Linked DNA regions of Homo sapiens: all the other regions are reported to be linked to region 1. Evidence: microRNA targets listed by miRTarBase, many of them from high-throughput screens and not tested one by one. Region 1 holds a microRNA gene; each other region holds the end of a gene's coding sequence.

Region 1 (4,000 bases):
CTCCCTCCTCCCTTGCTCGCTCGCTGGCTCCCTCCCCCCGGGCCGGCTCGGCGTTGACTCCGCCGCACGCTGCAGCCGCGGCTGGAAGATGGCGGGGAACGACTGCGGCGCGCTGCTGGACGAAGAGCTCTCCTCCTTCTTCCTCAACTATCTCGCTGACACGCAGGTACGGCCGGCTGGGGCTGCGGGCCCGGGGCCAGGGGTGCTGAGCTGCGGGGGCCGCAGCTGCAGCCGCGGAGGCCGGGAGGCAGCGGTGGGAGCCCTGGGGTAACTGGGGGTTCCAGGCTGCAGAGCCCCCCTTCCAGGCGCCCTGCGATGCGCTCCGTTACCGGGGCAGGGAGCCGGAGGTCTCCCGGCGCGTGCCGGAGCGCTGGGGGCGCTACGGCCGCTGGGGAGGGTCTAGCCTTGGCCGCTTGGAGTCTGCCACCCCGCGGGCAAAACTGGGGGGTACCGCGCTTCCTTTGGGAGGTGGAGGCGCGCCACGGTGTGGGGTACCCTCAGGCTGGCGCTGGGTGCTGGAGGCGCGCCGTCAGCGCCCGGCACTTGCTGCCGTACTTTCACGTGGACTTGTGGCCCCGGCACGGGTGCATGCCCGGGTCTCCGGAGTCCCCTAGTCCTCCAGGCTGTAGTCCCCAGAGTGCTGTTGCTGGCCCCCCGCGGCTTTCTACCCGCGCCCGCAGCGCGGAGTTTCCTGCCAGTTGCCGGCTAAAGGCATAAGGGTCTGCGGGGCACGTGGACATGCGGGCGGAGACAGCGTCTTCCTGGTTTCGCTATCGGGCGGAGCCCCCTGGGGGGAAAAGCCAGGCTGGATGGGGGCGGAAGGACTGTCTGGGGGCGCCTGGGTCCCCCTGCGGTGCGCGGCCCCGGTGCGCGCTCCACGATGCAGGGGGAAGGGAAGGCGAGGCGGAGTCCCAGGCACTGGCTGAGCCCGGGAGCCCCACTGGCGACACGCGCGTGACAGGAGAGGGTGCTCTGGTGTGCCGGGGCGCGGGGGAGCGAGGAAGCTGGTGGCTTGGAGACTGGGAGAGGGGTGCTGCTGGGACAAGCAGCCACCAAAAATGTCAGCACGAGGCGTGCGCGGCCCCCACCCCTTCCCCCATTTTCCCCACCCAATGCCTGTTGCAAGCATAAAGTTTGGCTCCAGAGTTAGGGCTTTTTCTCTGGGCGCCCGGCTGCGGGTCATTGGGAAGCTGAGGATGCGGCGGAACCTCGGAGGAGCCCCGGGTGCTGGCACACGCCTGGGCACGGAGAGGGGCGGCCGGGCGGAACCGGGCGCGGCTCGCGGGGGCTGGTTTGGTACCTGGAGTGGGAGCGCCGGTGCCGGCCCGTTTTGCATAACAGTGGAAGGGAGGGGGAAGGCGGAGATTGGGGGAGGGAGGTGGGAGGAGAGAGAGGGAAACTTTGCTTCTTGTTATAATCTGCCTGTCTTTGGGCGGCAGCAGCTGTCATGGGACCGGGTGGGCGGGGAGAGGCTTGCAAGCTGACTCCTTGCGGTGAAACGCGACTTGGAAGGGACGCCGCAGCCGAGACGTTCAGCTCCGGGCAGCGACTTCGGGCTGGCGGCTGGGACGGCGTGGCGTGGCAGGGTGTCGCCGAGAGGAAGCCCGCCACGCGGGAGGCAGGCCGCCCCTGGCCCGCTGCAGACGCCGCTGCGTAGGGGAGCCGCGGGGCCGCGTGGTCGGTGGCGGGCGCGCTCGGGTGGGTTCGCGGCAGAGGCCGGAGGGGCTAGTGGCGTGTGATTGCGCTTCTCGAGATCGAGGGGAATGTGTGATGAGCGGGTTGCGCGCGCGGGTGTGTGTGTGTGTGTGTGTGTGTGTGTGTGTGCACACGCCGCGCGCGCCGGGCGCGTACCTTTACCTCTGACGAAACTGCGGTGGAGCTCCCGCCGTCGTCGCCGGGCTCCGTCACACGCCCCGCGCCGGTGTCTGCGCCGAAGGCAGGTCCCAGCCTCAGTACCCCCAGAGCCGACAGCTTGGGGCTAGCGGGCACTGAGTGCGGGAGGAGGGGCAGAGTCACTCCTGGGAAGATTCTGTCCCCAGATCTCGAAATTGCCCTGGGGCGTCTCCGAATCTCTTGGCTGAAAAGCGGATGAGAGAGGCCTGAAATAGCCGGAGACTCGTTCAGGGACCCATGTCAAGAACTGTCCGCTTTGGACTGTACCCCGGATTTTAACTCGATCTTCAGTGTTTGGCTCAGCAATAATTAATTATTTTGCCCTTTAGCCGCCCAGCGAGCCTAGCTAGCAGAAATATTTCAACTAAGGAAACTAGAAAATTGAATACTCAGGTGTTTGCAGGAGCAGTGCAGTGAAAGTTAATCTGGGACATTTGCTTTTTTTATTTAACCACATGACAGGCCGAGGATCTTCTGGTGATCTTTGCCGGCCCAACTTGGGAAATGTAATTGATAGGATGAGCTTTGAGCCGCCCCTAGAAGGCTCGGAGAGCCCAGCCGGAAGAGGACCTGGGCGGGCCCAGTGTGCTCCTCCTTATTTTACAGCTGGAGAAAGAGGCTGCGAGGAGTGAGCGGCTTGTATGGGACCATGCAGCCAGAGGGTGACAGAGCCACCCAGGGCTCCTGACTCCAGGTCCTGTGTGTTACCTAGAAATAGCACTGGACTTGGAGTCAGAAGGCCTGAGTGGAGTCACCTTCCCCACTCTCTGGCTGGGTGACCCCGGAGCAAGCCATTTGAACTCTCCGAGCCTCATTTCCTCCATCTGTCAAATGGGGCTGGTGGTGCCGCAAGAGAATCCAATGGCCTGGTGGTGGGGGTGAGCAGTGTTTGCATGTGAGATGTTCTGGTTGTTCCTGCAACCCCCTCTCCTCCCCCAAACTTTCCCTGACCCTCCCCTCCTTCATCTCCCTTTGGGAGCTTTGGGGAAAGTGGATTAAATGGTAATTCATTGTCTTTGTCCCAAAAGATTGTTGTTGTCTTTGGTGGCTAATCCAGGGTTAGATTAGAGGGAGGACTTCTGTTTAGGAGACTTAACTTTTACCCATTGGGGCCAAAGTACGGAAATTTAGCAGAACAAGGATTGCGAAAGTTTCTTGGAAAGCTTTGAGGCATGGATCCCAAAGGACTGTGGGTGGCTTCACCTTTGTTCAGGCTATGCCCCTGGCCCAGAGTACCCTCACTCACCCGTCCTGCATGGCCTTCTCCTCTACTAGGCTCTCCCAGCCCAGCTTGCCCTGCTTTCTCTCCTTTGGTTTTCTGCATCTGTGTGATACAACCAAGCACTTTGTGTGAGTCTGGTGTCCAGTAAGATTCTAGCACTAGGGTTGTACCTTTTATCATTGTGCCTGCAAGGCACCTGTCAGTATGCTGAGCTGTGTTCCTTTGCTTAGCTCTTGGCTAGGCACATGGATTACAGACAGGGGTGCAGCTGGGTCCTGCCAAGCAGAAGCTCCCAGGCTAGCAGGGGAGACAGCTGGGCAGCGAGTGTGGGAGAGAGGAATGCAGAGGGCTGCAGCTGTGGGCAAAATTTTAGACCCCAAAGGCCACACAGCAAGTCCACACTAAATATGGGCTATTTGAAGTTGCTTAGGGCATCAGTCATAGATGCACAAAATGTCAGAGTTGGCAGCGGGAATGTTAGAAATCATCAGTTCTAACAACTTATTTAAAAATATTTAATTATAGAATTGTTAGAAAATACTGCCAAGCATAAAGAAAAAAATGAGAAATATGTAACATGACCCAAAGATAACCACTTAATTGTCATGTATATTCCAGACTGTTTATTTCCTGTTCATATAGATCACATCTTATTTTTAAAAAATGGAGTCGCCGGGCACGGTGGCTCACCCCTGTAATCCTAGCACTTTGGGAGGCCGAGGCGGGTGAATCACCTGAGGTCAGGAGTTCCGGACCAGCCTGGCCAACATGGTGAAATCCTGTCTCTACTAAAAATACAAAAATTAGCTGGGCGTGGTGACACACACCTGTAATCCCAGCTACTTGGGAGGCTGAGGCAGGAGAATCGCTTGAACCCGGGAGGCG
Region 2 (4,000 bases), not on the chromosome of region 1:
AAGTCCTGGTTTCACAACCTTGGGGCTTTGTGGCTTTTTATCTCCTGCCTTGGTCTGGGGAAGAGCAAGTATCTTGGGTGGGGTGAAGGGCACTGGCCCTAGGGGTTCTTTTCTTGCCAAGTGGTGTGCTGGAGTGGGGGTGGGGGGTTTGGTGTCAGATGCAGGGCTGCTCTCACACTCCCTTGCCACATCCTCTTGCTAGTTTCTGAGAACTAAAGAGCGATTCCTGGGGCCGGGCTGTGGCCTAACCTCCCCAGACTTCCCCATGTGTTGGGAGCTGTCCTTCCCCTGCACCTGCTGCCAGATGCTATGGGGGGAGTGTTTGCTCCTCACTCTTCTCCCATGTTCCCAGGACTGCCTGCGGGCCTGTCAGGAGCAGATCGAAGCTGCACTCAGGGAGAGCCTCAGGGAAGCCTCTCAGACCAGCTCCAGCCCAGCGCCCAAAGCCCCCCGGGGCTCCAGCAGCCAAGGGCCCAGCCAGACCAGCACTCCTACAGATGTCACAGCCATACACCTGTAGCCCTGGAGAGGCCCTCTGGAGTGGCCACTAAGCAGAGGAGGGGCCGCTGCCACCCACCTCCCTGCCTCCAGGAACCACACCACATCTAAGCCTGAAGGGGCGTCTGTTCCCCCTTCACAAAGCCCAAGGGATCTGGTCCTACCCATCCCCGCAGTGTGCACTAAGGGGCCCGGCCAGCCATGTCTGCATTTCGGTGGCTAGTCAAGCTCCTCCTCCCTGCATCTGACCAGCAGCGCCTTTCCCAACTCTAGCTGGGGGTGGGCCAGGCTGATGGGACAGAATTGGATACATACACCAGCATTCCTTTTGAACGCCCCCCCCCACCCCTGGGGGCTCTCATGTTTTCAACTGCCAAAATGCTCTAGTGCCTTCTAAAGGTGTTGTCCCTTCTAGGGTTATTGCATTTGGATTGGGGTCCCTCTAAAATTTAATGCATGATAGACACATATGAGGGGGAATAGTCTAGATGGCTCCTCTCAGTACTTTGGAGGCCCCTATGTAGTCCGTGCTGACAGCTGCTCCTAGAGGGAGGGGCCTAGGCCTCAGCCAGAGAAGCTATAAATTCCTCTTTGCTTTGCTTTCTGCTCAGCTTCTCCTGTGTGATTGACAGCTTTGCTGCTGAAGGCTCATTTTAATTTATTAATTGCTTTGAGCACAACTTTAAGAGGACATAATGGGGTCCTGGCCATCCCACAAGTGGTGGTAACCCTGGTGGTTGCTGTTTTCCTCCCTTCTGCTACTGGCAAAAGGATCTTTGTGGCCAAGGAGCTGCTATAGCCTGGGGTGGGGTCATGCCCTCCTCTCCCATTGTCCCTCTGCCCCATCCTCCAGCAGGGAAAATGCAGCAGGGATGCCCTGGAGGTGGCTGAGCCCCTGTCTAGAGAGGGAGGCAAGCCCTGTTGACACAGGTCTTTCCTAAGGCTGCAAGGTTTAGGCTGGTGGCCCAGGACCATCATCCTACTGTAATAAAGATGATTGTGAAATAAAACTGGCTTTGGCTTCTTGGATTGGTGTGTGGGTAAGTCTATTTCTGCACTGTATGAGGTAAGGAGGTGGAAGTCAATGGTCTAAAGCAGGGATCATTGAGCCTTTTCTGTAAAGGGCTGGATATTTAGGCTTTGTGGGGTACATGGTCTCTGACCCAAATATAGTCAGTTCTGCTTTATAATGTGACCTATGCGTTCCTAAAAATCACTATGCCATGCAAAATTGCACAATAAAGACCACAGGTCTCATGGGAAAAATGGGGCTTGAAGCACAACACTCAAATGAGTGACACATTTAAAAAAAAAGGATAGCTTGGTTTTTACATATGTCAAATGGTTGAGAAATTATATCACAATAAATATGGCCTTTTATCTTGAAGACATGCACTTTGCTTTTGGAAGTGGACGTCGGAAGGGTTGCTCAACACAGGTGGGGAGATGAGTGAGGTAGCTGGTACATGTTTAGGTGTGAGTTTTGTGTACTACTTAGGCTTGGTTCAGCTAGATACAGTTTCCCATATTCACCTACTATTTCTCGAGGATGAAATCACACACAAGCAAACATGAAGTCTGCGTTATGATCAAACTGTTCCCAAATATATTAAATGGGTTGGAACAAATGCGCAATTTCGAAAGCAAATAACAAGGGTTATAGCAGGATTATACTTAAACTCTGCTGTTGTAGCACAAAACCAGCCACAGAAAACATGTAAATGGGTGAGCATGGCTGTTCCAACAAAACTATTTATGGATGCTGAAACTGGAATTTCATGTAATTCCTACCTATCACAAAATACTGTTTTAATTTTTTCCCCATTTAAAAATGGAAAAATCATTCTTAGCTCATGGGCCACACAAAAATGGGCACTTGGGCTGGGTGCAGTGGCTCATGCCTGTAATCCCAGCACTTTGGGAGGCCGAGGCGGGTGGATCACCTGAGGTCAGGAGTTTGAGACCAGCCTGGCCAACCTGGTGAAACCCCTTCTCCACCCCGTCTCTACTAAAAATACAAAAATTAGCCAGGCGTGGTGGCACGCACCTGTAGTCCCAGCTACTCAGGAGGCTGAGGCAGGAGAATCTCTTGAACCATGGAGGCGGAGGTTGCAGCGAGCCGAGATCATGCCACTGTACTCCAGCCTGGGCGACAGAGCGAGACTCCGTCTCAAAAAACAAATCAACAAAAAAAGGGGCACCTGGCCCTAGTTTACTAGTCACTAGTCTAAAGCTTTCATTGGCTGAAAAGCCAGAAAGGGAGCCTGTTTGATGCTAGCTCTGATCTAACCATTCTTGGGCCCAGCCTTATTCTCTGGCCTTTTTTTTTTTTTTTTGAGACAGTCTTGCTCCGTGGCCCAGGCTGGAGTGTAGTGGCCCCAATCCTGGATCACCGCAACCTCCACCTCCCAGGTTGAAGCGATTCTCCTGCCTCAGCCTCCCAAGTAGCTGGGATTACAAGCACACGCCACCACACCCAGCTAATTTTTGTATTTTTAGTAGAGAAGGGGTTTCACCATGTTGGCCAGGCTGGTCTCGAACTCCTGAACTCAGGTAATCCACCTACCTCAGCCTCCCAAAGTGCTGGGATTACAGGCGTGAGCCACCAAGCCCAGCCTCTCTGGCCTTTCTTGACTCTTATCTCTGCTTTCCCCAAGGAGTTTTCTCTTGTAGTCCTTTCATCCACTGCTGAGACACGACCATCTTTGGACAACCTGCTCCTGGCTGCTGTAGCCTGTGATGGGGGAAGGCAGAGGATGTGTCCCCTGGGGGCTAACAAGGTGAGTGCAGCCTGGAGAAACAAGCTTGGAGATCAAGGGAGGTGGGTCCTATATAAACAGGACAAGAATGTCCTCCGTCCTCCAAATACTAACAGGAGTAATGCCTACCTCCATTGACTACACCAAACACAGAGGTTCAATAAATATCTGTCTTTGCCTTTATCCACAGTGACCTGACACAATAGCCATAGAAAAAGTACTCACACCAAGCCCCAGCTGGGGACTGGGAATGCTAGCATATGGTATCTCAAGTTGGCTCTCAGAACTAAACAGGGATAAGGGCCTAGAATGGAAGAGGGAACCAGCCAGACCCTCAGTCCTTCCTGTCCTGGACTGGGAGCCACAGATGTCCCTGTGATCTGTCACTGCCCTGATCTGGGTCTTCAGCCATTAAAGCTCAGTGTCATCTTCAGTCACCAACGGGGGTCTTGGTGTCCTTCCAAACCCCTTTGGCCAGGACAGCTGACTGTTTTCCTCACTCCACGGTGATGGGAACATCTTCCACATCGCGGGGGACTGCACTCTGAAGCTCACGCCTGATTTCGGGCGATAGCTGTGGATGGGGCTGCAGCCGGAGCAGTTCTAAGAGGGCCTCTTTCTGGTCTGTGGCCAAGTCGGCCTTGTAGCGCTGGACCAAAGTCAGGAGGCACTGGTGCCACAGCACAGGCAGTTCACGCTTCTCTGTCCGGAACCCCAGGAAGTGGAAGACTAGGGCATCCAGC
Region 3 (4,000 bases), not on the chromosome of region 1:
GAATTAATCTTTCTAGGTTCCTAGTCATCACTTTTTGATTACAGGTGGTTGTGTCAAACCGATTGGTGACATCTCCATGCTGTATTGTCACAAGCACATATGGCTGGACAGCAAACATGGAGAGAATCATGAAAGCTCAAGCCCTAAGAGACAACTCAACAATGGGTTACATGGCAGCAAAGAAACACCTGGAGATAAACCCTGACCATTCCATTATTGAGACCTTAAGGCAAAAGGCAGAGGCTGATAAGAACGACAAGTCTGTGAAGGATCTGGTCATCTTGCTTTATGAAACTGCGCTCCTGTCTTCTGGCTTCAGTCTGGAAGATCCCCAGACACATGCTAACAGGATCTACAGGATGATCAAACTTGGTCTGGGTAAGCCTTATACTATGTAATGTTAAAAAGAAAATAAACACACGTGACATTGAAGAAAATGGTGAACTTTCAGTTATCCAAACTTGGAGCACCTTGTCCTGCTTGCTGCTTGGAGGTATTAAAGTATGTTTTTTTTAGGGATAAGTAAGGTCTTACAAGAGCAAAGAAATGAAATTGAGACTCATATGTCCTGTAATACTGTCTTGAAAGCAGATAGAAACCAAGAGTATTACCCTAATAGCTGGCTTTAAGAAATCTTTGTAATATGAGGATTTTATTTTGGAAACAGGTATTGATGAAGATGACCCTACTGCTGATGATACCAGTGCTGCTGTAACTGAAGAAATGCCACCCCTTGAAGGAGATGACGACACATCACGCATGGAAGAAGTAGACTAATCTCTGGCTGAGGGATGACTTACCTGTTCAGTACTCTACAATTCCTCTGATAATATATTTTCAAGGATGTTTTTCTTTATTTTTGTTAATATTAAAAAGTCTGTATGGCATGACAACTACTTTAAGGGGAAGATAAGATTTCTGTCTACTAAGTGATGCTGTGATACCTTAGGCACTAAAGCAGAGCTAGTAATGCTTTTTGAGTTTCATGTTGGTTTATTTTCACAGATTGGGGTAACGTGCACTGTAAGACGTATGTAACATGATGTTAACTTTGTGGTCTAAAGTGTTTAGCTGTCAAGCCGGATGCCTAAGTAGACCAAATCTTGTTATTGAAGTGTTCTGAGCTGTATCTTGATGTTTAGAAAAGTATTCGTTACATCTTGTAGGATCTACTTTTTGAACTTTTCATTCCCTGTAGTTGACAATTCTGCATGTACTAGTCCTCTAGAAATAGGTTAAACTGAAGCAACTTGATGGAAGGATCTCTCCACAGGGCTTGTTTTCCAAAGAAAAGTATTGTTTGGAGGAGCAAAGTTAAAAGCCTACCTAAGCATATCGTAAAGCTGTTCAAAAATAACTCAGACCCAGTCTTGTGGATGGAAATGTAGTGCTCGAGTCACATTCTGCTTAAAGTTGTAACAAATACAGATGAGTTAAAAGATATTGTGTGACAGTGTCTTATTTAGGGGGAAAGGGGAGTATCTGGATGACAGTTAGTGCCAAAATGTAAAACATGAGGCGCTAGCAGGAGATGGTTAAACACTAGCTGCTCCAAGGGTTGACATGGTCTTCCCAGCATGTACTCAGCAGGTGTGGGGTGGAGCACACGTAGGCACAGAAAACAGGAATGCAGACAACATGCATCCCCTGCGTCCATGAGTTACATGTGTTCTCTTAGTGTCCACGTTGTTTTGATGTTATTCATGGAATACCTTCTGTGTTAAATACAGTCACTTAATTCCTTGGCCTTACAGTGTCTCAAAGTTCTTTACAAATCTACTTAAAGCCATCCTGGCTGAGGCAGGAGAATCGCTTGAACCTGGGAGGCGGAGGTTGCGGTGGGCTGGGATTGCACCATTGCGCTGCAGCCTGAGCAGCAAGAGCGAAACTCCATCTCAAAAAAAAGATGAAAAAATCAGCCCAATAGGTAAGAGTCCCTCTGGGGACTGGGGGTGGTAATGGCTAAATAAAAGTCTTCACTTCTGAAATTTGGTGGTTCTAGAGACAAAACTTGGTTAGATAGCATATAGGATTTGCATTCTGAGCCTAACGCCATATATAAAAATGATAGGAAATGCCTGGGACTTGGATATGTGACAGTGTCTAAGGGGGCAGTGCACAGGCAGGGAGAGACCTTGTCTCAGTCTCGTGCTAAGCAGGTATTGAATGCTTGGTAAATGGCAATCACGTTTAGTCCTTTAAATTCTCTGAAAAGTTCTTAATCCCCTTCGATAATATACAGGAGGAATTACGTAAATTGAGGTCTTAGTAGTGGCTGAATTTAAATTTAACTCCAAAGCCCCATTTTATTCTGCTAAGTTTTGTTGCGTACTGAAAGGTGTTAGAAGAAAGGTTTACGGTGTTAAACTAGGAAGTGAATGGCAAAAAGGGTAAAAAGTCAATTTTGTTTTTTCCCAGGTCTAGCAAGAGAATATTAAATCTTAAGATTTCTTTCAATTAAAAACATAAGGCACTTGAGGGAATCAAGTCAATATAGAACCTCTATAAATGATCTCCCAAATGAACTCATCCTCCTGGAGTTACTGGGAAAGCATTTATGGCAAATAGGTCCAGATGCACAGGTAAGTACCCATCTCCCAGCAACCCCCATGCTGGAGACTGTACCACCAAGAAGATGGATCCCCAGCCCAGTGAGTGAGAAGATGAGCTAGATGACACATGAATGTCATGCTGAAAATGCCCTTGCACTGCTCCAGGACCACAATTCTTACCCTATTGCTTCAAAATTCACTGTTGTTTCAAACCTTCCATAATCAAGTTCCATCCTGCCAGGGAGGGTGGTGAGTGCTGAAAAGACATGCAAACTGGACAAGAGAATTATAGATGACATGGTCGTCTAGGTAGGAAACTCATAAGGAATCTACCAAAATTATGCTAGAAATGATTTTAGCATAGGATAGTTGAGCCAGGCATGGTGAGTCACGCCTGTAATCCCAACACTTTGGGAGGCAAAGGTAGAATTGCTTGAGCCCAGGAGTTCAAGACTGTCTAGGCAACAAAGTGAGACCCTGTCCCTCTGAAAAAATTAAGGCCAGGTGTGGCTCATGCTTGTAATCCCGGCACTTTGGGAGGCCAAGGTGGGTGGATCACCTGAGGGTCAGGAGTTCCAGACCAGCCTGGCCAACATAGCAAAACCCCATCTCAACTAAAAATACAAAAATTAGCTGGGCGTGGCGGCAGGGACCTGTAATCTCTGCTATTCGGAAGGTTGAGGCAGGAGAATCACTTGAACCCGGGAGGCGTAGGTTGCAGTGAGCTGATTGCGCCACTGCACTTCAGACTGGGCAACAGAAGGATACACCGTCCCAAAAAAAAATTTAAAATAGCTGATCATGGTGGCACATGCCTGTAGTCCAGCTACTTGGGAGGCTGAGGTGGGAGGATTGCATGAGCTCAGGTGTTTAAGGCTGCAGTGAGCCATGATCATTCCACTGCACCCCAACCTGGGACACAGAGCAAGACCCTGTCTCTATAAAGATAAAAAAATGAAAGAAAAGCAGTAGTTGCCTGGGGCCAGGAGTCAGAGCAGGGAGTGACTGCAGAGAGGCAAGAAGGAACTTTTGAGGGCAATGGAAGTGCTGGAAAATGATCAGGTGGTGCCAGCTGTGTGTGTGTATATATATATGTTTTTTCTTTTTTTTTTTTGAGACGAAGTCTCACTTTATTGCCCAGGCTGGAGTGCAATGGCGTGATCTAGGCTCACTGCAAACTCCACCTCCCGGGTTCAAGCGATTCTCCTGCTTCAGCCTCCCGAGTAGCTGAGATTACAGGCACCCGCCACCATGCCCGGCCAATTTTGTATTTTTAGTAGACAGGGTTTCACCATGTTGGCCAGCCTGGTCTCGAACTCCTGACCTCAGGTGATCTGCCCGCCTTGGCCAGCTTTAAGTGCTGGAATTACAGGCATGAGCCACGCACCTGGCCAGGACTCTTTCATCTGCTTAGGGCTAACCCTCTCCTCCTGTCCTGAGAGCTCACT

Evidence for each region. The annotated mature microRNA hsa-miR-378a-3p reads ACUGGACUUGGAGUCAGAAGGC and lies in region 1 at 2,613-2,634, shown strand. An mRNA with a match to its seed (bases 2 to 7 or 8) in the 3' UTR can be bound and repressed. Matches are read on the target gene's strand: a 7mer-m8 pairs with bases 2 to 8, a 7mer-A1 pairs with bases 2 to 7 and ends in A, and an 8mer does both.
Region 2: the mRNA of BYSL is a reported target of hsa-miR-378a-3p. Seed matches in the 3' UTR shown: 7mer-m8 at 3,607-3,613.
Region 3: miRTarBase lists HSP90AA1 as a target of hsa-miR-378a-3p. The part of its 3' UTR that is shown has no 7-base or 8-base seed match.

The regions. Positions count from the first base shown.
Region 1 is chr5:149,730,255-149,734,254 of GRCh38, forward strand. MIR378A (microRNA 378a) reads left to right here and starts at 2,571; the gene lies at 2,571-2,636. It overlaps PPARGC1B (PPARG coactivator 1 beta), which reads left to right and starts at 56. Exons shown (of 12, transcript NM_133263.4): 1 at 56-166. The coding sequence starts at 89. RefSeq lists enhancers at 1-305, 544-663, 674-723 and silencers at 1-393, 1,194-1,293, 1,304-1,353, 1,374-1,463, 1,494-1,723.
Region 2 is chr6:41,932,460-41,936,459 of GRCh38, reverse strand. BYSL (bystin like) reads right to left here. Exons shown (of 7, transcript NM_004053.4): 7 at 3,414-4,000. The coding sequence ends at 3,754. It overlaps CCND3 (cyclin D3), which reads left to right. Exons shown (of 5, transcript NM_001760.5): 5 at 353-1,508. The coding sequence ends at 520. Among named protein-coding and RNA genes, the nearest start is that of CCND3, 7.3 kb to the left of the region's middle.
Region 3 is chr14:102,078,489-102,082,488 of GRCh38, reverse strand. HSP90AA1 (heat shock protein 90 alpha family class A member 1) reads left to right here. Exons shown (of 11, transcript NM_005348.4): 10 at 45-378; 11 at 668-1,747. The coding sequence ends at 777. Among named protein-coding and RNA genes, the nearest start is that of HSP90AA1, 6.6 kb to the left of the region's middle.